Homo sapiens: one gene and its partners. The protein of the gene in region 5 purifies or fractionates together with the protein of the main gene of each other region. This does not show direct contact. Each region holds a gene or a part of one and is shown on either strand. Other genes may lie near its edges. The genes, in order: SYMPK, CCDC51, PTGES2, SCCPDH, H2AP, NCEH1 and RAB5A.

Evidence for each region.
Region 1: the proteins of H2AP (region 5) and SYMPK purify together in Homo sapiens (affinity purification with mass spectrometry; one large-scale study listed by BioGRID and IntAct). This does not show direct contact.
Region 2: the proteins of H2AP (region 5) and CCDC51 purify together in Homo sapiens (affinity purification with mass spectrometry; one large-scale study listed by BioGRID and IntAct). This does not show direct contact.
Region 3: the proteins of H2AP (region 5) and PTGES2 purify together in Homo sapiens (affinity purification with mass spectrometry; one large-scale study listed by BioGRID and IntAct). This does not show direct contact.
Region 4: the proteins of H2AP (region 5) and SCCPDH purify together in Homo sapiens (affinity purification with mass spectrometry; one large-scale study listed by BioGRID and IntAct). This does not show direct contact.
Region 6: the proteins of H2AP (region 5) and NCEH1 purify together in Homo sapiens (affinity purification with mass spectrometry; one large-scale study listed by BioGRID and IntAct). This does not show direct contact.
Region 7: the proteins of H2AP (region 5) and RAB5A purify together in Homo sapiens (affinity purification with mass spectrometry; one large-scale study listed by BioGRID and IntAct). This does not show direct contact.

Annotation. Positions count from the first base shown.
Region 1 is NC_000019.10:45,828,648-45,832,147, forward strand, and holds part of SYMPK (symplekin), read right to left. Parts: intron 2,942-3,500; coding exon 2,737-2,941; intron 1,558-2,736; coding exon 1,407-1,557; intron 559-1,406; coding exon 323-558; intron 1-322. UniProt on the Homo sapiens protein: Scaffold protein that functions as a component of a multimolecular complex involved in histone mRNA 3'-end processing. Specific component of the tight junction (TJ) plaque, but might not be an exclusively junctional component. May have a house-keeping rule.
Region 2 is NC_000003.12:48,434,397-48,437,119, reverse strand, and holds part of CCDC51 (mitochondrial potassium channel), read left to right. Parts: intron 1-1,983; 5' UTR 1,984-1,991; coding exon 1,992-2,303; intron 2,304-2,723.
Region 3 is NC_000009.12:128,120,193-128,122,461, forward strand, and holds the end of PTGES2 (prostaglandin E synthase 2), read right to left. Parts: coding exon 2,170-2,269; intron 1,082-2,169; coding exon 953-1,081; 3' UTR 501-952; downstream 1-500. UniProt on the Homo sapiens protein: Isomerase that catalyzes the conversion of PGH2 into the more stable prostaglandin E2 (PGE2) (in vitro). The biological function and the GSH-dependent property of PTGES2 is still under debate.
Region 4 is NC_000001.11:246,727,409-246,730,908, reverse strand, and holds part of SCCPDH (saccharopine dehydrogenase-like oxidoreductase), read right to left. Parts: intron 1-3,500.
Region 5 is NC_000023.11:37,989,603-37,991,814, reverse strand, and holds H2AP (huntingtin-interacting protein M), read right to left. Parts: upstream 1,037-2,212; 5' UTR 976-1,036; coding exon 622-975; 3' UTR 501-621; downstream 1-500.
Region 6 is NC_000003.12:172,701,068-172,704,567, forward strand, and holds part of NCEH1 (neutral cholesterol ester hydrolase 1), read right to left. Parts: intron 1-3,500.
Region 7 is NC_000003.12:19,971,097-19,974,596, reverse strand, and holds part of RAB5A (ras-related protein Rab-5A), read right to left. Parts: intron 1-3,500. UniProt on the Homo sapiens protein: The small GTPases Rab are key regulators of intracellular membrane trafficking, from the formation of transport vesicles to their fusion with membranes.

The DNA of each region.
Region 1 (3,500 bases), on a different chromosome or scaffold from region 5:
TATCTCCAGGCCCATGGGTGAGCACTGTTATTTACAGATGGGAAAATGGCAGAGAGAGGGAGTGACAAAGCCACGCAGAGCAAGCTCAGAGCAAGTGGCAGAGCTGAGGAACAGCTCAGGGAGTGCGACCTGGAGCCCACATGCAAAACTACAACCTTGAACGTGCCTCCAGAGGGGGAGGAGGAGAGGAGACTTGGGATGGGTGCGAGGAGGACTGACTCGGGGGGTGACGAAGAGGGAGGTGGTCGCAATCAGAAAGGGAGGGCAGCACCAGGAGAGGAAGCCTCTCGGGGACAGGAGGGTGCAGGGTCAGCCCCCTCACCCATCCTTCTGGTCTGGTTTCTCCTGCAGGCCAGACAACAGGCGGATGAGGCAGTCCTCATACTTGTCCAGGGAGCCCGAGGCACCTGCGGCCAGGTAGGCGTTGTACTCCTGGTAGAGCCAGGCGAAGGCCAGGTCCAGGCGGGCCCGCACATCCTCCAGGATGAAGGACAGGACCTCCGCCTTCAGGCCCGAGTTGAACTGTGTCACCAGGCTGGCCAGGATCTTTATGCGGACCTGGTGGGAGGGTGAGCCAGCATGTCAGTGTAGGGTGGGCAATCCAGGGACTCCGCAATCGTGCCCTGCGACTTCTCCCACCCAGACGCAGGAACTCTCAGAGCAGACAAGGAGTGAAGCGAGGAAGGCCAGCCGAGGACCCTTATGCCTAGGAAGGTCCCGTTTGTGTGTTGGGGGGTGGGGGTACCAGGGTGGGGATCGATCATCACAGAATAAAAATGAGTTTCTAGGAGCAGCACCCATGTACTTAAGTGCACAGAAAAAGATCCTCAAAGATTCCCCTCATTTGTGCCTTTGTCACCTTTGAAGAGAGGGATGGGGTGCAGGTGATGGCCACGGAAGAGTACTGGATCTGGATTCCCCGGAAATATTTTTCAGCTCAGGGAGTATGTTCCTATACTACTGGCTAATCAACAATTAACTTCACAGAATGGGGAAAAAGTCACTTTTCCCCATTCTTTGAAGGTAACAGTGCCAGCAAGTGGCAGAATCAGGACAGAGAACCAGGTATATTTCTAAAGCTAAATAGTAACAGTAAGAACGTTAACAACCGTGAAGAACCAAGACCACAAGAGCAGCCCTCACTTGCAGAGGCCTCCCAGCACCTGCCCTGTGCACCTGAGTGCCTGTGCTCATTGCACATTTCCTCCTCGTCACCCAGGAGGAGCTGCTGCTACTGTCTCTGTTTTATGGAGGATGGGAGTGATCTGGAGAAGCGGCTGTGGGCAGCAGAGCTGGGGTCCGCAGCCAGGGAGGTTTGACGCCAGGGCCAGACTCTTCGCTGGATGTGAGGTAGACGTTTGGGTAGAGGGACTGGAAGGATGGGGTGGGGGGTGGCAGGCGCACACCTGGGCTGCCCCGCTGCAGGCCACAGCCTTCTCAGCCCGCAGGATCCGCTTCACAGCGCCCAGCTTCATGGCTTCCACCTGGGCATCGGTAAGGGGCTTCAGCACGTCGCTGAGACGGAAAATTTTCTTGCGCCCACCAGCGCCTGCCAGCCTGTGTGGAAGAGCAGTGACAGAGATGCAGTGACCCAGACTGCAGCAAAGGCCTGTCTGGTGACTCTCCCAACTTCAAGGACTAGGTAGGCAACAGAGATGGCCCCCATCCCCCTGCTGCCTCTCCAGTTCCTCTGTGTCTCTGAGGCACGGTGTGGCGGTGGGTAAGAGGAAGGAAGAGGATGTTATTTTGGTTTTGCAGAGGGCGTCTTACGGAAGGCTTCTGTGAGTGGGGATCTGAACGGAGGCAGGGACAAGATACACAAATGTCTGGGGGACCAGCTCTCCAGGCAAAGGCCCTTAGGTGGGAACAGACTTGTGGGCACGAGTGGAGGAGGGGTGAGGGTAGCAGAAGAGAGCTCGGAGGGTAGCAGATCCCGCTCAGCTGTGTTAGTAAGACTTGGGGCTGGGCACGGTGGCTCACGCCTGTAATCCCAACACTTTGGGAGGCTGAGGCAGGCGGATCACGAGGTCAGGAGATCGAGACCATCCTGGTTAACACGGTGAAACCCCGTCTCTACTAAAAATACAAAAAATTAGCCAGGCGTGGTGGCGGGCGCCTGTAGTCCCAGCTAATCGGGAGGCTGAGGCAGGAGAATGGCATGAACTCGGGAGGCGGAGCTTGCAGTGAGCTGAGATCGCGCCACTGCACTCCAGCCTGGGAGACAGAGTGAGACTCCGACTCAAAAAAAAATAATAAATAAATAAATAATAAAAAGACTTGGGTGGCCGGGACTGGCTGGATTTTGTGGTGTGTAAGGGAGGTAATAATGGGGACAATGATGATGACAGCCAGTAGCATTTACTACACAACAGGAACCACGCGAAATGCTTGACAATCACAATCACTTTTCACTCGAGTATCTAGTTACCTAACCATCACCATTACCACGAACTAATTTAATTCTTCTTTGATCCTTATGAGAAAGATACTATCATTATCCTAATTTTAGACATAAAAAAGGATTTTTTTTTTTTTTTTTTACAGGAAAGAGAACAGCAAAGGCTTAGTGGTTATGGCACTGACTCGGGAGTCAGAGAGAACCTATTCCAGACTTCCTTCTGTCTGCATCTCAGTTACACACACACACGCACACGCACACGCACACGCACACGAGCTGAGAACCAGACCTTCAGGGTAGGGCTCCTGTCCTGCCCTAGCACCCAGAAGAGGACTCACCGGGGCTGAGTGACAGGGATAATGGGCTCTGGCCTCCTCTTGGCCTGCGGTGCCTCTTCCTCCAGGGGGGACATGGAGCTCAGGGAACCCACCACCGAGATGGCTTGGCCCTGGGCTGACAGGCGCCGCTTGATCAGGACGCTCTCTGTCTTCACCACCTTCTCCTCCTTGGGCTCCTCCTTGCACTGTTTGGTCTGCTCTACACCTGAGGGGGAGGCAGCAAACAGACACCCAGTGCGTCAGACCCACCTGCTCCAACCCGAGGACCTCCTGTGTGCCTGGCTCTGTTCTGAGCCCTGTACACACAAAACCTCGTTTAAATCCACACAACACTGTCCTGGAGTGGGTACTCTTTTTATCCCCACTTTTCAATACAACTGAGGCTCAAACTAGAAATGCCATTCATTGCTGGGGGGAGCAGCAAATGCTACAGCCACTTTGGAAACATGATGAGCAGTTTTTGTTTTTTAGACTGGGTGTCACTCTGTCACCCAGGCTGGAGTACGGTGGTGCAATCAGGGCTCACTGCAGTCTTGACCTCCTGGGCTCAAGCAATCCTCCTGCCTCAGCCTCTCAGCCTCCCAACTAGCTGGGACTACAGGCGCATGCCAACATACCTAGCTAATTTTTGTATTTTTTTGTAGAGATGAGGTCTCCATATGTTGCCCAGCTTAGTCTTGAACTCCTGGGCTCAAGCGATCCTCCCGCCTTGGACTTCCAAAGTGCTGGGATTACAGGTATGAGCCACTGTGCCCAGCCCTCAG
Region 2 (2,723 bases), on a different chromosome or scaffold from region 5:
TGAGCCGAGTAGACTCGTGGAGGAAGAGTCATCCAGCTGGACAAGGTGGCAGGGCACAGACCAGCACGGTGGCTGGAGCAGAGTATGGCAGTAGAAGGAAGAGGATGAGGGCTGAGAGGTCTCAGGATTTCTTGGCCACCGCCAGGTGAAATGGGAGCTGTTGGGGGATTTTGATCAGAGGGATGTAATCTGATTTTTGTGTTACAGGGCCTTGGGCTGCCATGTGCAGAACATGGGGGTGGGGGACGGCAGGGGAGAAAGCCGAGATTGCATAGGAGACAGTAGCTGTCATCTCTGCCAGGAATGGGTGACTTTGCTGGGGTCTAAAAATGGGCAGCTAGTAGAGGAGGTGCTGGGAAAGGAGGCTGAGAAGGTTGGAGGAAGCCAAGAGGGGCAGTGATGTTGGGAAGAGAGGGTGTTGAAAGTGGTGCCAGCCATGGCGGACACTGCATGCTTTGTCTGATGAAGGATACACCTGCAGGGGTGTTATAGGATCTCAGCCTGTGTGTCATGGGTGCTGGCCTTGAGGCCTGGGAGTCTGACTGGGCTGCTGGGGCCTGGATGGTATGCACCCTCATGGGCATGGAACCCAGCCTTATGAAGGGGGCCCAGGGGTTTGGGTGTGGCACCAGCTTGGGATCACTGTCACAGTGAAGTTCCCTTCTGCGGCTCTCAGCTCAGGCCCACTTTGCCCAGAAGACATGTTTCTACCCAACCAGCTGTGTTTTCAAAGCCGCTGAGCTTCTCCAAAGACAGTTCTTAGCACAGCATGATGGAGAGGAGGCTAGGGTGCTGTGGGGAGCCTCTGTCTCATATCACCTTCCATCAGGAAGCCCCTTTCTATTCTGTATCTGGAGCTCCTTCAGTTCCTTCCTGTCTGCAGCTCCCTCTGCTTTTCTCTCTGTGGCGTGGTCTGTTGGCCACCAGGTGTCGCTCTCACAGCCAGGATCAGTGCTTAGGGACTTTGAGGTGTGGTTTGGCCAGAGGAGGGTGCTGTTGGCTCAGCTTTTTCTGGGAAAATGGGTCACCTGGCCACCTCTTTGGGGTCCTCAGAGTCACTGGCACTCTTGGGCTCAGGTGAGGCCTGATTCTGGATAACAGGAGACTCCCTGCTGTCCAGGTAATGAGAAGCAGGCCCAAACATCAAAGCAAGATGGAAAAGGGAAAGATGAGAGAAACCTAACCTGTTGAGCAATGGCAGGTTGGAGAGGAAAGAGAAAGCTTATGGAAGTCGTGAAGTGTGAGACTGAGAGTTGGTAGCCTGGAAAGTCTGGGGGCGGAGTTGTATGGCGTGAACCTAAGAAAAGTCCTCTGTGGCAAAAACAGTTTTGTTTTGTTTTTTTTTGCCCCTGGAATTATCTTAGAGGAGAGCTGAGAGTTTTCTGTCTTGGGTCACAAATGGCCTGTGTCCTTAGGTCCTTGCACAGAATTGAAACTCTGCTTCCCTTGTGCTGAGGCAGTCCTTGGAGAGTCTGGGGAGTTGGTTTTGAGGCTGTTTTACAGAAATGATCCTGGATCTTAGTCTTCCTGAATTCCCCTGAGTTCCACAACATTGCAGGGAGTATTTATGCGTCTTTGTGGGGCTTTGTCAGCATGTGTACAAGTCTGGTTTAAAAACTGTCTTTGACATCAGAAACCTGGGCACCAGGATTCTCATTCAAGTCACAGCAGAGAGACCTGGAGGATGTAGGGAAGTGGGTAGCAGGGAAGGGTCCGCTTTGTGTGGCATGGTGGCGGGCACTGGAAGGTATGGCATCCTAGAGGCTCGTCCCCAACTGTGTTCCATTGTCCAAGAGCACCCAGAGGAGAGCCTGACCATCCTCTTGCCACAGGGGCCACAGTCTCTGGGCCCAACAGGGTGGTGCTCAGTTTAGATGATTTGAGTGGGGATTAGTCTGTTCAGAACTGTCCCTAGGCCTCAAAACTGACTTATGTCCAGCCTTTCTCAGCTGTGAGCTGACCTGTCTGGCGTCCCCCTCACAGATCTCAGGATGATGGGGCGCAGCCCTGGGTTTGCCATGCAGCACATCGTGGGTGTGCCCCACGTACTGGTTCGGAGGGGCCTCCTTGGAAGGGACCTCTTCATGACCAGGACTCTCTGCAGCCCAGGCCCAAGCCAGCCCGGAGAGAAAAGACCTGAGGAGGTGGCCCTGGGGCTGCACCACCGCCTCCCAGCACTGGGAAGAGCCCTGGGGCACAGCATTCAGCAACGAGCGACCTCCACAGCCAAGACTTGGTGGGACAGATATGAAGAGTTTGTTGGACTCAACGAGGTTCGAGAGGCCCAGGGAAAGGTGACAGAGGTGAGGAGGGGAGCTGGGGTGGCTGGCCCCGCCCTCTGACTTGGGAAATGTGCCAAACCAGTCACGTGGTGCTGGGTAGCCACATCCAGACTTGTGTTTAGCCTCATTTCTCACGTGGAAACCTGGGCTTGATGCTTCTGGGGTGAAGGTCTCCATGTAACTGTGCCACCTACTTTCCCCGAAAACAGTTACTGTGTACCAGTAAGTCCCTGGCCACTAACATCCACTCTGTGAGGCCAGCAAATACTTCCTTTGTGGACCATTTGGGGATTGATGGTGAGAGTTACGTGGGGCTTGCTGCGGTACTGTTACTGTGTGTAATTACAACATCTTTTGTGAAGATAGAGGGCACTAGGAAATGTCACAGTGTGAGGTGGAAAGAGCTGGTGGTGGTTGTCAAGTCCTTTGTGGTGGCAGAAA
Region 3 (2,269 bases), on a different chromosome or scaffold from region 5:
CAGGAAAGGGGGTCCCACCCACAACCCACACTCACCCTGGAAGGCAGAGCCTCTTCTCCCATAAAGCCTGGCCCAGCCTGGAGCTGAAGCCCGGGGCCGCCACCTGAGAGGGCTTGGTTCTGTCTGTAGAGCAGGGGTCTGAATAGCCTGGTGCCCTGGACCAGGTGACCCGGCTCTGTGCACTGCACCTGCTCCTATCACTGAACTCTCCCACAAGGCGGGGACAGACGAAGAAACTGAGGCTTGATGAGTGACCCCACTGCAGAGCCCCACCGTGGGTAGGGTGCCCCGACCTGCACTCTGGCTGCTGGGCTCCACGGCCCAGCTGTGTGCCCTGAGTGGTATCCTGGGGACGATGCCACACAAAGCCTGCGGAGCCGTACCGTGCCTGACACCTGGGAAGCCCCAGGCCAGCGGTTAGTTACCACAAGGGCTGGCACAGCCCAAGCCTGATGCCTCCCTTGACCGCCAGCCCCACGCAGCACTCAGCCACACGGAGCTCCATGAGATGCCTGCCATGACAGGCGCCACAAACCTTTCCTTTATTGCAAACATGTCCCAGTCCCGGGAGGCTTGGGAAGAGTGGGAACCAGGGGAACCCAGGGATGGGATTCCACTGAAAACAAACCGTCCTGCTGTCCTGTCGAGGGCCCCCACCCACAGGATGTAGCCATGGGACAGCCACTGAGGGTCCAGGAAGAGGGGCGGCAGAGCAGGGAGGCAGGGACAGGGAGGGGTCGCCCCAGGGCAGTGGCAGGGCTGGAACTCGTCCCTAACATCCCTGAGCCCCAGCAGGTGCCCTGTGTTAGAAGCGAGAGGGCTGGTGGGGGTGCGTGGACAAGGGGCAGAATGATCCTGCCCCCAACCAGTATCGCCAGGCGCTGGCCCAGTGGCCCCAGGCCCTGGCAGCTGGCGTCTTCCGCTGCCTTCCCTCTGCTCTGCGCGGGGACATTCAGTGCGCTGGGGAGGCCTCGGTGATGGCCCTCTCCACCCGCAGGTACCAGGGCTGGATGTGCGTGTGCTGCATCAGGTCATCGAACGCATCCAGCCCCTCCATCACACGCAGCACGCCATACACCGCCTGGGGCACGAACAGAAACGTGTCACCATAGCTGGTTTGACAGGCATCCAGACCTCCTTCGTTCCCTGCCAGCTGTGTGGCCAGGTCCCGTCCCCTCCCCCCTTGGAGCTCGTGACCCACTCAAGGGCCAACAGCACAGGTGAGGGTTTGAACAAAGCATGTGGGGTGGCTGCAGGTCTCGCCTGCTTCACATCTGTACCCCCTTTTCTGGGCCACAGACCCTGCCCCCCAGCAAGTTTCCTTGGGATAAATGCCCTCCCCTCATCTCAGGTCCTGAGATGGGGGAGAAGAGACCCCACCACCCAGTTTCAAGACCCAGGTCACCCAGGGGCAGGACAGTTTTAAAAATGAGCAGTGGGCCAGGCACGCTGGCTCACGCCTGTAGTCCCAGCACTTTGGGAGGCCAAAGTGGATGGATCACCTGCGGTCAGGAGTTCGAGACCAGCCTGACCAACATACTGAAACTCTGTCTCTACTAAAAATTCAAAAATTAGCCGGGCATGGTGGCACAGGCCTGTAATCCCAGCTACTCAGGAGGCTGAGGCAGAAGAATTGCTTGAACCTGGGAGGCGGAGGTTGCAGCGAGCCAAGACTGCACCGCTGCACTCCCGCCTGGGTGACAGCGTGAGACTTGGTCTCAAAAAAAAAACAAAAACAACAACAACAAAAAAAAACAAAAGGAAAAAGGGCAGTGAAGCCAGGCCAGTGAGACGCCCTCCCAGGGGTTTTCTGGGAGAAGCCTGGAGCACCGGACCCAGCCCGCCTGAGGCTGAAGCCAACTCCAGGGAGGGCAGTGTTGATGGCGACAGGTAGAGCTTGGGCTCTGGTAACACCACCCGGGCCTCTGGATCCAGCAGGGCCCGAAGCCAACCCGTTCCCTGAACTTGTCAGTTATGTGAACCAAGGCGGTTCCTGGTCATCTGTTTCTCTCCTGGAGCCACTTCGAGGCGAGTTTCTGTCCGTGATGGCAGAGAGAGGCAGGTTCCTCTGGCAAGATGCAAGCACCGTCCAGGCTTTCCCTTGCAAACCTCCCCCACTCTGAGGACAGAACCCTCGGTCCAGGCACCACCTGCCACCACCACACTCACCAAATCAGCGAGATTCGGCTTCTGGCCCCCCATGAAGGGCCGGTCCTTGCCCACAGCAGCCACCCACTTGTCAGCAGCCTCATAGAGGTCCTCGCGCACG
Region 4 (3,500 bases), on a different chromosome or scaffold from region 5:
TTTTGTATTTTTAGTAGAGACAGGGTTTCACCATGTTGGCCAGGCTGGTCTCAAACTCCCGACCTCAAGTGATCTGCCCACCTCAGCCTCCCAGAGGTTTGGGATTCCAGGCATGACCCACCGCGCCTGGCCCTCAAAGTTCCATCTTCTAACCCAGTGGTCTCCCAAGTAGTCTTCCCCTAAGGGAAGCGCAGAATGATCCACTGAGGGTGGAAGTAAATATCAGAACTTTTATCCATGTTAATGTTTACAAAAACATGACGTTCCGTTAACGGTTACTATATGGACTGACTACGAGACATTCCCTGGGCCATGTTAAGTGGTCATGTGTTGAAGACAGGACACAGCAGGTATCCTGATGGGGTTGTGGGAAAGTTTCCATCACACAGAGAGGGCCTCAGCACCACTCTTCATTCATTCAGTCGTTTTCACTTTACTGCAACCTAATGCCTGAATGAGGTTATTGAGGTTCTAAAGCTTAAACGCTGAGGCCTCAAGCATTTAGAGTGGGGAGGACAAAGACGCAGTGGAGGAGACGAGGACTTCCAGGGTGAAGCTGGTGGACAGGAGGAAAACTACGAGAAGATGACAACGTAGAAGCTGAGCAAAGAAAGGAGAAAGTGGTCAGCTGGATCGAATGCTGCAAGCTTTCAGATGAAGACTGGATTTGACAGGGTGGGACTTTAGCAGAGTAGTTTCATTGGAGGAGGGAGGAAAACAAAAGCCCAATAGGAGGCGTTTAAGATAGAGTAGGAGGTGAAGAAGCAGAGATAGTGAGTCATGAGAATTCTTCCAAGGAGGCTGCTAAAAAGGGGGCACAAAAAGTAGAGTAGTTGGAAGGGTATGTGGAATCAAGCAGCTTTTTTTAAAATATGGGAGATATCACATATTTAAATGCTGATTGAAATAATCCAGTAAAGAGGAGAAATTTGATAACAAGATAATGTGTAATTGTAAACATAAAGTGTTACAGGAAGTCAGGGACCCCGAACAGAGGGACCAGCTGAAGCCACGGCAGAAGAACATAAACTGTGAAGATTTCATGGACATTTATTAGTTCCCCAAATTAATACTTTTATAATTTCTTACACCTGTCTTTACTGCAATCTCTGGACATAAATTGTGAAGATTTCATGGACATTTATCACTTCCCCAATCAATACTGTTATAATTTCCTATGCCTGTCTTTAATCTCTTAATCCTGTCATCTTTGTAAGCTGAGGATGTATGTTGCCTCAGGACCCTGTGATGATTGAGTTATCCGTACAAACTGTAAAACATGTGTCTTTGAACAATATGAAATCTGGGCATCCTAAAAAAGGAAGAGGATAACAGCAATTTTCAGGGAACAAGGGAGATAACCATAATGTCTGACTGCCTGCGCGACTGGGCAGAAGAGAGTCATATTTCTCTTCTTGCAGAAAGCGAATAGGAGAAATATCACTGAATTCTTTTCCCAGCAAGGAATAACCCTGGGAAAGGAATGCATTCCCAGGGGGAGGTCTCTAAAATGGCCGCTCTGGGAGTGTCTGTCTTATGCAGTTGAAGATAAGGGATGAAATACACCCTGGTCTCCTGCAGCACCCTCAGGCTTGCTAGGATTAGGAAATTCCAGTCTGGCAAATTCTAGTCAAACTGGTTGTCTGCTCTCGTACCCTGTTTCCTGTTAAGATGTTTATCAATGACAGTGCGTGCCCAGCGGGACATGGAACCTCATCAGTAATTCTAATTTTGCCCTGGCCTTGTGATCTTGCTCTGCCATTTGCATTGTGATACCGTATTGCCTTTTGAAGCATGTGATCTCTGTGACCCACTCCCTATTTGTACACTCCCTCCCCTTTTGAAATCCCTAATAAAAACTTGCTGGTTTTGCAGCTCAAGGGGCACCACGGAACCTGTCAACAAGTGATGTCACCCCCAGAGGCCCAGCTGTAAAATTTCTCTTTGTACTCTTTCTCTTTATTTCTCAGACTGGCTGACACTTAGGGAAAATAGAAAAGAACCTATGTTGAAATACTGGGGGCTGGTTCCCCCGATAATAAAGTCTTTGAAAACTGTGCCCAATAGGAAGAGGACCAGTTTTTCCTTGTAACAAGAGATATGGCAGACTACAGGGTATGATGCAGATTGGCAGACAGGTAGGTAGGTAGATAGATCTGGTGGTAGGAAGATGAAGAAAGAAATTCTGTTATTAACCAGCTTCTATTTTCATAGTTAAAAAAAAAGAAAAATAAAATCAGATAAGAACAAGGAAAGAGAGACGGGATACTAAAAGTTCAAGGAAAACAAGGTTGTGAGCTGCTTCAGAGAGCAGGAGAGAGAATTCCTGAGGGAAATAGAGCAGAGCTGCCGGAGGTGCTAAGCACCACACAACGTTTGTAAACACATATTTGAAGTGTGACCAGTTAGCAGGGGGATACATTTTTCTCCAGCCACACTGTGTTACTCATGTTCAGGTGAAGAGCAGGCAGAGAATAACCAGGGCTGGGATTTTTCCAGAGTACTGAGGAGAAAAAGGCAAGGGAGATAGATGAGGGCGTCCATTATAGAGTGCAGCAGTGGACCTCATGGATGGAATCTAAGCTAGTTAAGAATGAGATGAATCTAAATCAACAACACTTCTATTTAATAGCAATTCAAAAACCCTTTTGCTCTCAATTAAAAATTATTAATATTTTAGATATTTAATTTTTAAACATCTTGCCAACTGTGATGGCTTCTTCAGATCACTAAATGTCACCAACATTCACCTTGTTACACAGGCCAAAAGTCTGATGGCCTGTGACTTGATGACTTTTTCACAGTACAACAGCAAAAGCCGTTCTCCTTTGAAAATATACTCTGGACCTAACTACTTCTCAGCACCACTACGACCCCAGGGCTTGTGCTTGCACCATTCCATTGCTCATCCTTTGTTATCTACTTTTCCACTCAGAAGCCAAAGAACTTCCAATTTAAATCAGCTGAAGCCCTTCCTTTCAACCATTCAACGCCTCTTGGTCACACCTGGAAAAAAAATCCACATCCTGGCCATGGCCCGTAAGATCCCACATGACCCAGCTCCCGGGTTGCTCTCTGATCCACTCTCCACCTCTCTGCCATGCCCAGCCACACTGGCCTCTGTCACACTCTTCAGTCTTGCCAAGCACACTGGCATCTCAGGACCTTTGTGCCTGCTGTCCCTGGAAAAGTCTCTCCTCAAAAGGTTCATGCAATTTGCTCTCATTTCATTCAGATCTTGGCTCAAATGTCAATTCCTCACAGAAACCTTCCCTGACCATCCATCTAAAAACACCAATATGCCAGGACCTTTTCTCCTTTCTTGGCTTCACTTTTCTTCAAAGCACTTTTCATTACCTCCTATTACAATCCTATTTTTCTGTCTTCCCCAAGAACGTAATGTCCACGAGGGATTTTCTGTTTTGTTCACCATTGTGTCCCAGGTGCCTACAATAGTGCATTTCACATGTGGTAAGCATCAATAAATATTTATTCAATAA
Region 5 (2,212 bases):
TTTCTTTTTTGCATTTTTCATGATGGTTTCTCCTTCACTCTTCAATCTCCATGTAAAGCCCCTGTCCCATGAACTTCATGCCAGCCAGTGTGCCCCTCTCCACCCACCCCTGTGGCCACCGCCCTCTGACTTCAGACCTTTGCTATCCTGAATAAAGCCTCCTGCACCTCAGTCAGAGTCTGCAGCTCCACCTCAGGCCCCAGCATCAGGCTGGGAATTCAACAAGCCTCAGAGGCCCCCAGCCAACTCCCTGGCCTCACAAGGCCTTCCTGTTCAGAGACAATGAGGAAGTCTCGGTGTCTTTATCCCAGCCAGTTCCTCCCCACAGGGCCGGCGCCCTCACTGTCACCATTGGAAACTGCCCCCTCTAAATCACTGATTCAAACACCACACTGGCCACCCCTTCCCCGCCTTCAGCTCTCTGGGGATAGCTTCCCCTGGATGTCTTACAGACACCTACAACCCAAAGCGACAGAAACTGAGAGGAGTCAGAAACATACTCATGGATTTACATCCTTTAATAGCACTTGTTGATGACAACAGCAGATATTCCTCAGCTGTGACACATTTTTGCCCTGGCTAAGCCTGTGAGGTTCCCTTCAAGGCTCTGGGACCCAGTCTTCAGTCATTCTTCCTGGATTTGGGCATCTCATCAAACAAAAAGCGAGTCACATCACTCTCAGCGCTGTGGGGCTCACGGTTGTTGTCCACTTCTCTCTCCCTATCTTGTGAAGTGTTGCGCATACTGCCATTGTTGCTGGCCTCCAAGCCTACCCGCTCCATGATGTAGTCAGCAAGGCAATCGAGCAAGGTAAGGAGGGTATTTATTGTGGAGGAACTCTGGCTTTGGACGTCTCGTTCATCTTGCACAACGCGGTCCACGAAGCTCCTAGGGACCTGTAGCTCATTTCTAGAAGGGTCTTGAGTCTGGTTGTTATTTGTAGACGAGTTCTTACAGTTCTTTTTCTCTGACATGATGTTTGCTGGGTTTGGCTCTCATCAGCTCTGCTTGATTCTCTAGCTCAAGTAGGTCTCTGAGGACACTAGTGCTTAGTCCTGCCTATTGTATCCCTCTGCTCCAGGCCCTTATTGGTCAGGGAGCTAGCTGCCTTTGTGACATCCCTAGACTTTGTGATTTCATTGGTGTCCACTGGTCCCTTATCAGACCTCAGCCTAGAAATGTCTATGACACTGATCTAGTCACGCTAATGACTGAACCTTGATTTTGAGGGAACTATAACTCTCTACCTGATTTTGACATTATAAAAATAAATGTGTGCTTCAGTGGAAAACTTTGCTCTGTCTTTAGGACACCACTGCAGGTTATCTGATTCCAGCCTTACATTATCTGTGAAGTCTTTTATAGCCTTTTGTTAGTTGTAGGCTGCTGATACATGTACAGCATATTCTTTAGTAGAGGTTCGGTTGTTCTTCACCTTATGAAACCAGTTTTGCCTCCATTTACACAATCATTTAATATTACTGATGAATATTCCCATATCAACTCTTTGGTTTCCCTTTTGAAGCAGTCATAACATCTTTTTCTTTTAGCATGTGTTCATTTCATATCTGTATGAGTGTCATGATTTTACCCCATTTGAAAAATATATTTTAGTCATTTTTCAATTAATAATAAGATGCTCAGCCGGGCGCAGTGGCTCACTCCTGTAATCCCAGCACTGTGGGAGGCAGAGGTGGGTGGATCACAAGGTCAGGAGATCGAGACCACAGTTAAACCCCGTCTCTACTAAAAATAAAAATAAAAATAAAAATAATTAGCCGGGCGTGGTGGCGGGCGCCTGTAGTCCCAGCTACTTGGGAGGCTGAGGCCAGAGAATGGTGTGAACCCGGGAAGTGGAGTTTGCAGTGAGCCGAGATCGTGCCACCACACTCCAGCCTGGGAGACAGAGCGGGACTCGGTCTCAAAAATAATAATAATAATAAGATGTTCAATAAGTTTACCTGTCAGTGCCAGGTAAACAGTTGATAGAGAAGTGCATCTTGTGCTCAGTTTAAGCCCAGATGTGTATTTCTTGTCCCTCCTAGGTGAAGCCAAAGCACTAAGAGATGTTTCTTTTCTATTATTTAATTTTCTTCTCTACTAATTCTGTGTTTTCCCTTTGACTTTGGTTCATTTACAGCCAATAACTTTGCCATTCCACAAGGGAAAAAGTGGAAAGAAAAAGGAGTCTCAAATCCAAGCATTTTCAAA
Region 6 (3,500 bases), on a different chromosome or scaffold from region 5:
TTCAACTACTTCTGCCACTATCCATTTGCTGACTACTCCCAAATCCATATCACCAGCCCAGCTCTGTCTCCTGAGCTCTGGATCTGTATATGCAGCTGTTTATGATCAGCCATCCTTGGACTAGTCCACTGACACTTCAAAACAGGGTCCCAAACTCTATATCTTCACCCTCAGATCTGCTCTTGCTCCCAAATCAGGGTCATGGTCCCCATTCACCCAGCTATTCCAGAATCTGTCCCAGGAGTCATCTTTGACTCCTTCCTCTCCGATGCTCCATACTCTCCCCTCCAACAGCAACTCTGATCAGCTTTCCTCCAAATCAGTCCCACTTTGTTAGTTCATGCTCTCACCTGGATTAGTGCTTCCTAGATGGTCTTTTGCCTTTTTTTTTTTTTTTTTAAAGACGGAGTCTCCCTCTATTGCCCAGGCTGGAGTGCAGTGGTGCAATCTTGGCTGACTGCAACCTCCACCTCCCAGATTCAAGGGATTCTCCTGCCTCAGCCTCCCGAGTAGCTGGGACTACAGACGCGTGCCACCATGCCCAGCTAGTTTTTTTTTTTTTTTTTTTTTGTATTTTTAGTAGAGACTGGGTTTCACCATACCGGCCAGGCTGGTCTCAAACTCGTGACCTTGTGATCCGCCTGCCTCAGCCTCCCAAAGTGCTGGGATTACAGTTGTAAGCGACCACGCCTGGCCTACTTTTGCTTTCTTACATTCCAGTGTCTACACTGCCACTGAGAAGGACTATTCTAAAACACAGTTTTGAGCATGTGACTTCTCTGCTAGAAGACTGTCAGTTGCTCCTTTCTCCTCCACAGAGCTCTTCCTCACCTGACTGGTGCTTCCCTTCTGCCTCCCTCTCTGACCTTTGAACTTTAAGCTCCAGCCAGTCTAAACCACTTGTAGTTCCTCAGCTACACCATCCTCTCCCACAGAACTTTCACATACTGCTGCTTCTGGCTGGAATGCCCCTTTCACCCTTCTCTTCTCTGGTTTCTATTATAAGGAAATCTAGCACAAATCTAAACTCTTGAGTTCAGGAGTAACACAGGCTGGAATCGAATTCAGGCTCCACCTCGTATAAACGGTGTCATCTTAAGCAAGTCACTTTTCTTTGCATTTCGGTCTCCTCCTTTGTCACATAAAGAACACCTGCCTGATTGTATTACCATGGGCTAAACTAATTGAACACAAAGCACATAGCACAGTATCTGCCACAGAGTAAATGCTCACTATATGCTCAATAGATATTTTTACTATAGGCACTCAACCTTGACATCTCAGATTAGATACGTTTCCCCAGTGCCCAGGTCCACTTTAGATGTTCTTTCCAAGGCTCTTGCAGCAATCCACAGATGCCTCTATCATAATTCTCCTTCCATCATTCAAGTGCCCACCTTATCGCTGGCAGTTGGTTTATCATCCCTCACTTGACTGTAAGCTTCTCAAGATTAGGTATCTGCCTTACACATTTCTGTTTTGCCAGACCAGCTCCTTAATATTTAATATGTGATGACGTCCAGGGTTTTAATTTTATTAAACACTGAAAGAGAGCTTGTTAAAATTTCACAATATGACACACCTTAGATTAGGCAGGCGATATAGTCAGGTTTTTCACTTGAAAATTCAATTACAGGTAGGCACGGTGGCTTATGCCTGTGATCCCAGCACTTTGGGAAGCCAAAGCAAGAGGATCACTTGAGCCCAGGAGTTTGAGACCAGCCTGGGCAACATAGCAAGACTTTGTCTCTCCTAAAAAATAAAAAAAGAAAAATATAGCCAGGCATGGTGGCACGCGCCTGTAGTCCCAGCTACTCAAAAGGCTGAGGCAGGAGGATCCCTTGAGCCCAGAAGTTCAAGGTTGCAGTGAGCTGTGATCACACCACTGCATCCCTGCCTGGGTGACAGAGCAAGACCTTGTCTGTAAGAAAAAAATAAAAAGTAAAAAACGAAAATAAATTCAATTACATTTCTTCATTCTATATAAACATAAAATGAAAGAGAAGTGGTAGACAGTTCCCACATAATTTCATTTGGCAGCAAAAGTAAATATATGGTGCTCACTTCAGCAGCACATACACTAAAACCATAACAGTTCAGAGAGGACTAGCATGCCCCTGCAGAAGGATGACACACATTTGCAGTGTTACATATTTTCTTTAGAAAAGTAAATATGGCTGGGTGCAGTGGCTCACCCCTGTAATCCCAGCACTTTAGAAGGCCAAGGCGGGTGGATAACCTGAGGTCAGGAGTTTGAGACCAGCCTGGCCAACATGGTGAAACCCCATCCCTACAAAAATACAAAAAAAAATTAGCCGGGCATCATGGCGGGGGCCTGTAATCCCAGCTACTCGGGAGGCTGAGGCGGGAGAACTGCTTGAACCTGGGAGGCGGAGGTTGCAGTGAGCCGAGATCGCACCATTGCATTCCCGCCTGAGTGACAGAGCAAGACTCTGTCTCAAAAAAAAAAAAAAAAAAAGTAAATATATGCTATTTTAAAATGCTATTTTAAAAGAAGCAATTGTGCATAAAAAGAACATTTAAGAATGATTAACTGTACTTTCACACTTCACAGAAATGTCTCAGATCAAGCTCAAATTGCATGGTAGAAATAGGATGTCCCATTAAAATAATGAGGGTATTTCTATGCTCAGGGTTATATTTGTAGAAGTACCAGAAAAAATAAAAAGGAAACTATAAATTGGGCATTATCTTACACACCAGGTAGCTGAATCAATCTGACCTTAATGTTTCATAGGTACTATCTGCAGAGACCAACTCAGGTTGTTCACCTGTCAGAACTAACACTGATTAAATAATGCCCCTGACACTATTCTTAAAACCTTTTGCCTCCATATGTTTAAAGAAAAATCCTAGCAAATCAGCTAAAAATTGTGGTTAGTGAAGTTACTAATGTGCATGAAGAAATACGCATCATCATAATTTCTGGACAATCATTATTTACTGATGTTTTAAAGTTAAATTCACCTGACAATAGTAAATATTCCAGTTCAAAACTGTTATGAAAGAGATTATTAGCACGTTGAAGTTCTGCACAGTTTCCAGCTGAGCTGTCATTTAAACCACACCCACACAGCCCAAAAGCACATCATGCACAGAGAATTCAGGTGAGGTGACATTAAATCTCAACAAGTTTGGGGACATTTGGCAAGATAAAAATCCTTGATCAACTAGTCCAAAAGCACTGTCACCCATAAGAAACAGGGGGAACACTCAGCATAAATACCAATTTCAGCACTTCTTTTACATTGTGTCACTGAAAAGATTCATAGTGTAAGCAGTAGTAAGTTAGAAAATAATCAAGACAAGCCAGGCTCATGCTCCGAGCTCTCTTGGGACACCATTATTACCTTTAGCCACATTTTCCTTCCATCATTCAAGCACCTACCCTATCACTGGCAGTTGGTTTATCATCCTTCACTTGACTGTAAGCTTCTCAAGTTTAGGTTTCTGCCTTACACATTTCTGTTTTGCCAGAC
Region 7 (3,500 bases), on a different chromosome or scaffold from region 5:
GTGGTAGTCATTATTACCTTAACCTAGATTTAATTTGTTCAGTTGATTCAATATTTGCTCCTACCTTTCATTCCCTGCCATAAGAATTTTTTGGATCTGTACTTTCCCTGATTCTAATTTTAACACTAGGAAAGTAGCATTATAGGCCAGGCGTGGTGGCTCATGCCTGTAATCCCAGCACTCTGGGAGGCTGAGGAAGGCAAATCACGAGGTCAGGAGATCAAGACCATCCTGGCCAACATGGTGAAACCCTGTCTCTACTAAAAATACAAAAATTAGCTCGACATGGTGGCGCTTGCCTGTGGTTCCGGTTACTCGGGAGGCTGAGGCAGGAGAGTCGTTTGAACCCATGAGGCAGAGGTTGCAGTGAGCTGAGATCGCACCACTGCACTCCATCCTGGCAACAGAGACTCTGTCTCAAAAAAAAAAAAAAAGTAGCATTATAAAATGATACAATATTGTTAAAATTAAAAGACCTACACACAGCCATTAGACCGCCCTCTGCTGCTGCTCTATCATTCACTGTAAATTGGTATGCTCCTCCCTTCCTTCTACATTTAGCTCAAGGTGTGATATTCAAGCCCTATTTCCAAATTGGTATGCACTTGAATTACCATTTTCTAAAACTGTCATATTATGCAAAAGAATTATGATATATTTCTCTAAATTACAGCCGTTTATCTAGTGACGTTGATAGAGATGTACTAACCAGTATCAAATGTGCTAAAGAAACAAAGTCTAATGAGATATATCTCTTTTACGTTAGACACAACATTTATTTTTCACGCTCTTTTAGGTTAACTGGTTGCTGGCTTTAGTATCAACAACTAAAATCTTCTGAATTTTGCAAACAATACTGTAAACATCTTCATTTGGACCTAGATTCTAATTAATAGTTTTATGAATTCTCATTAATCACATTGTAAATATATTCTAATCCAGTTCAAACTTTTTTTTAACCAACAATTAGCAGAATTGTCCATTTTCTAAAATATTGTATTTATGGTAAAGGATATCCAGACAGCACTATGTCACTTTTTGAAGGTCACGAGAGGTTCTCCTGTAGGATCAAAAAATGTTTTTAAACTAAAATTTTAAACTAAAATTAAGTCCCTAAGACAGTACTCTTACCAAAAAGGAAAAGAGGAAAATAAGTCACAATACATAAGCCTTTTTTCAAGTATAGTTTGATGCAGACTTGCAAAAAAAAAAAAAGGAATTAAAATGTGCACAGACTGTTTCATTTTTCAGACATACTATGATCACAAAGTCTACTAGTACTAAAAACATTCACTTATACGTCCATAAGTAAACTTCAGGCTCAGGGAAATAACTATAGTCATCCCTCAGTATCTGTGGAGGACTGTTTCCAGGACCTCCCCATATATCATGAAGGACTGGTTCTAGAATCCCCAATGGATAACAAAATCTGAGGATGCTCAAGTCCCCGATATAAAATTGCAAAGTATGTGTATATAACCTAAGCACATCCTCCTGTATACTTTAAAGCATCTCTAGATTACTTATAATATCTAATACAATGCCTGCACCTCACGTCATCCACATAGATTCAACATAGTATTAAGTGTGTGGCAAATTTAATTTTTGCTTTTTGGAGCTAAGTTAATTTTTTCCCCCTTAATATTTTCAACTTGCAGTTGGTTGCATTTATAAATGTGGAACTCACAGATTCAGAGGGCCAACTGTATTAGAGATGTTGCCTTAAAGAAAATATGATCCAATTCTCAAGCCAGTTAAAGACACAAGAGGCCACCATACATGTACACCATACATGTACAAAAATGCCAAATACAAAGAAATTGCAACAAATACATTAAGACAAACAAATGCCCATTACCAAGTACATTCTTTCAGAAATACAAAACTATTACATTAACAGGCTAATGAAGAAAAATCCATTTTATTTAAACAAATTACAAAAAGGCATTTGAGTCAATATCCATTCCTAATAAACACACGAGATTCTTCCTTATGGCAAAACAGGGCATCATTCCTAAATCTAGGAACAAAACCAAGGGAAATCATGCTGAACAGGAATGGATCCCATTCAGATTAACAAAGAAGATAATCAATTCATTCCTCAACTCTGCTTAGAAACCTTCCTTCATTCCACCCTAGTTAATATCTCCTACATCTGTGCTCCCAGAGTTCTCTGTGTAATAACGTTTCACACCTTTTATAATCATTGGTTTATATCTTTTTCTTCTCCTTGATTGGGAGTTACTTGAGCAATGACCACAGGTTAAGTATCCCTTATCTGAAATGCTTGGAACCAGGAATGTTTTGGATTTTTAAAGATTTTGTAATATTTGCATAATGAGATATTTTTGGGAAGGGATCCAAGTCAAAACATGAAATTCGTTTGTTTCACATAAAGCTTGTACACATAGCCTGAAGCTAAAATAATTTTGTGCATTAAACCAAGTTTATGTACACTGACTCATCAGAAAGCAAAGGTGTTAAGTGTGGAAATTGTTCACTTGTGACATCATATTGATGCTCGAAGAATTTGGGAGCATTTCAGACTTCAGATTAGGGATGCTCAACTTGTAGTAGCTCCTCTCTGTACCAACATTTAATATAAATCCTTGTTCATACAGATGTTCAAAAATGTCTACTAAAAGAAGGAAGTTCAAAAAGATACATGGAACCATTTAGAGGCTACTTCAGATAACATTTGAATGTAGAGAGAGGCAGCTCCCAAATGTGAAAAAATAGATATTTCACAAGGTATCTACTCAAGTTGTAACACAACCTCAAAAACAACATCAAGATATTTTTCACCTGATAACACTGTACTGGGCCAGGTGCGGTGGCTTCCACCTGTAATCCCAGCACTTTGGGAGGCCGAGGCAGGTGGATCACCTGAGGTCAGGAGTTTGAGACCAGCCTGACCGGTATGGCGAAACCTCGTCTCTACTAAAAATACAAAAACAATTAGCCAGGCATGGTGGTGCATGCCTGTAACCCCAGCTACTCGGAAGGCTGAGGCAGGAGAATCACTTGAACTCGGGAGGCAGAGGTTGCAGTGAGCTGAGATTGTGCCATTGCTCTCCAGCCTGGGCAACAAGAGTGTAACTCTGTCTCAAAACAACAACCACCACCACCACCACCACCACCGTACTACTGTTCATGTGGTATGATAAAGCATAATTTTGGGGGAGAAAAGACCAACATTAGAGGCCAGGGAAAATCAGTTTTATAATATACTTTAAAAAATGAAAAGTGCTACAGTACTAAATGAACAGAAATATTACTGGAATAGTGTAGCCCACTATAATAAACTCTTGATATACATAATACACCCTAAGACGTTCATGATTTCTCAAAGTCCTAAAGTTTTAAAATACTACTATAGTGTTTTTTTTTTTTTTTTTTGAGATGGAGTTTAGCTCTTGTTGCCCAGGCTGGAGTGCAATGGCGCGATCTCGGCTCACTGAAACCTCCGCTTCCTGGGTTCGAGTGATTCTCCTGCCTCA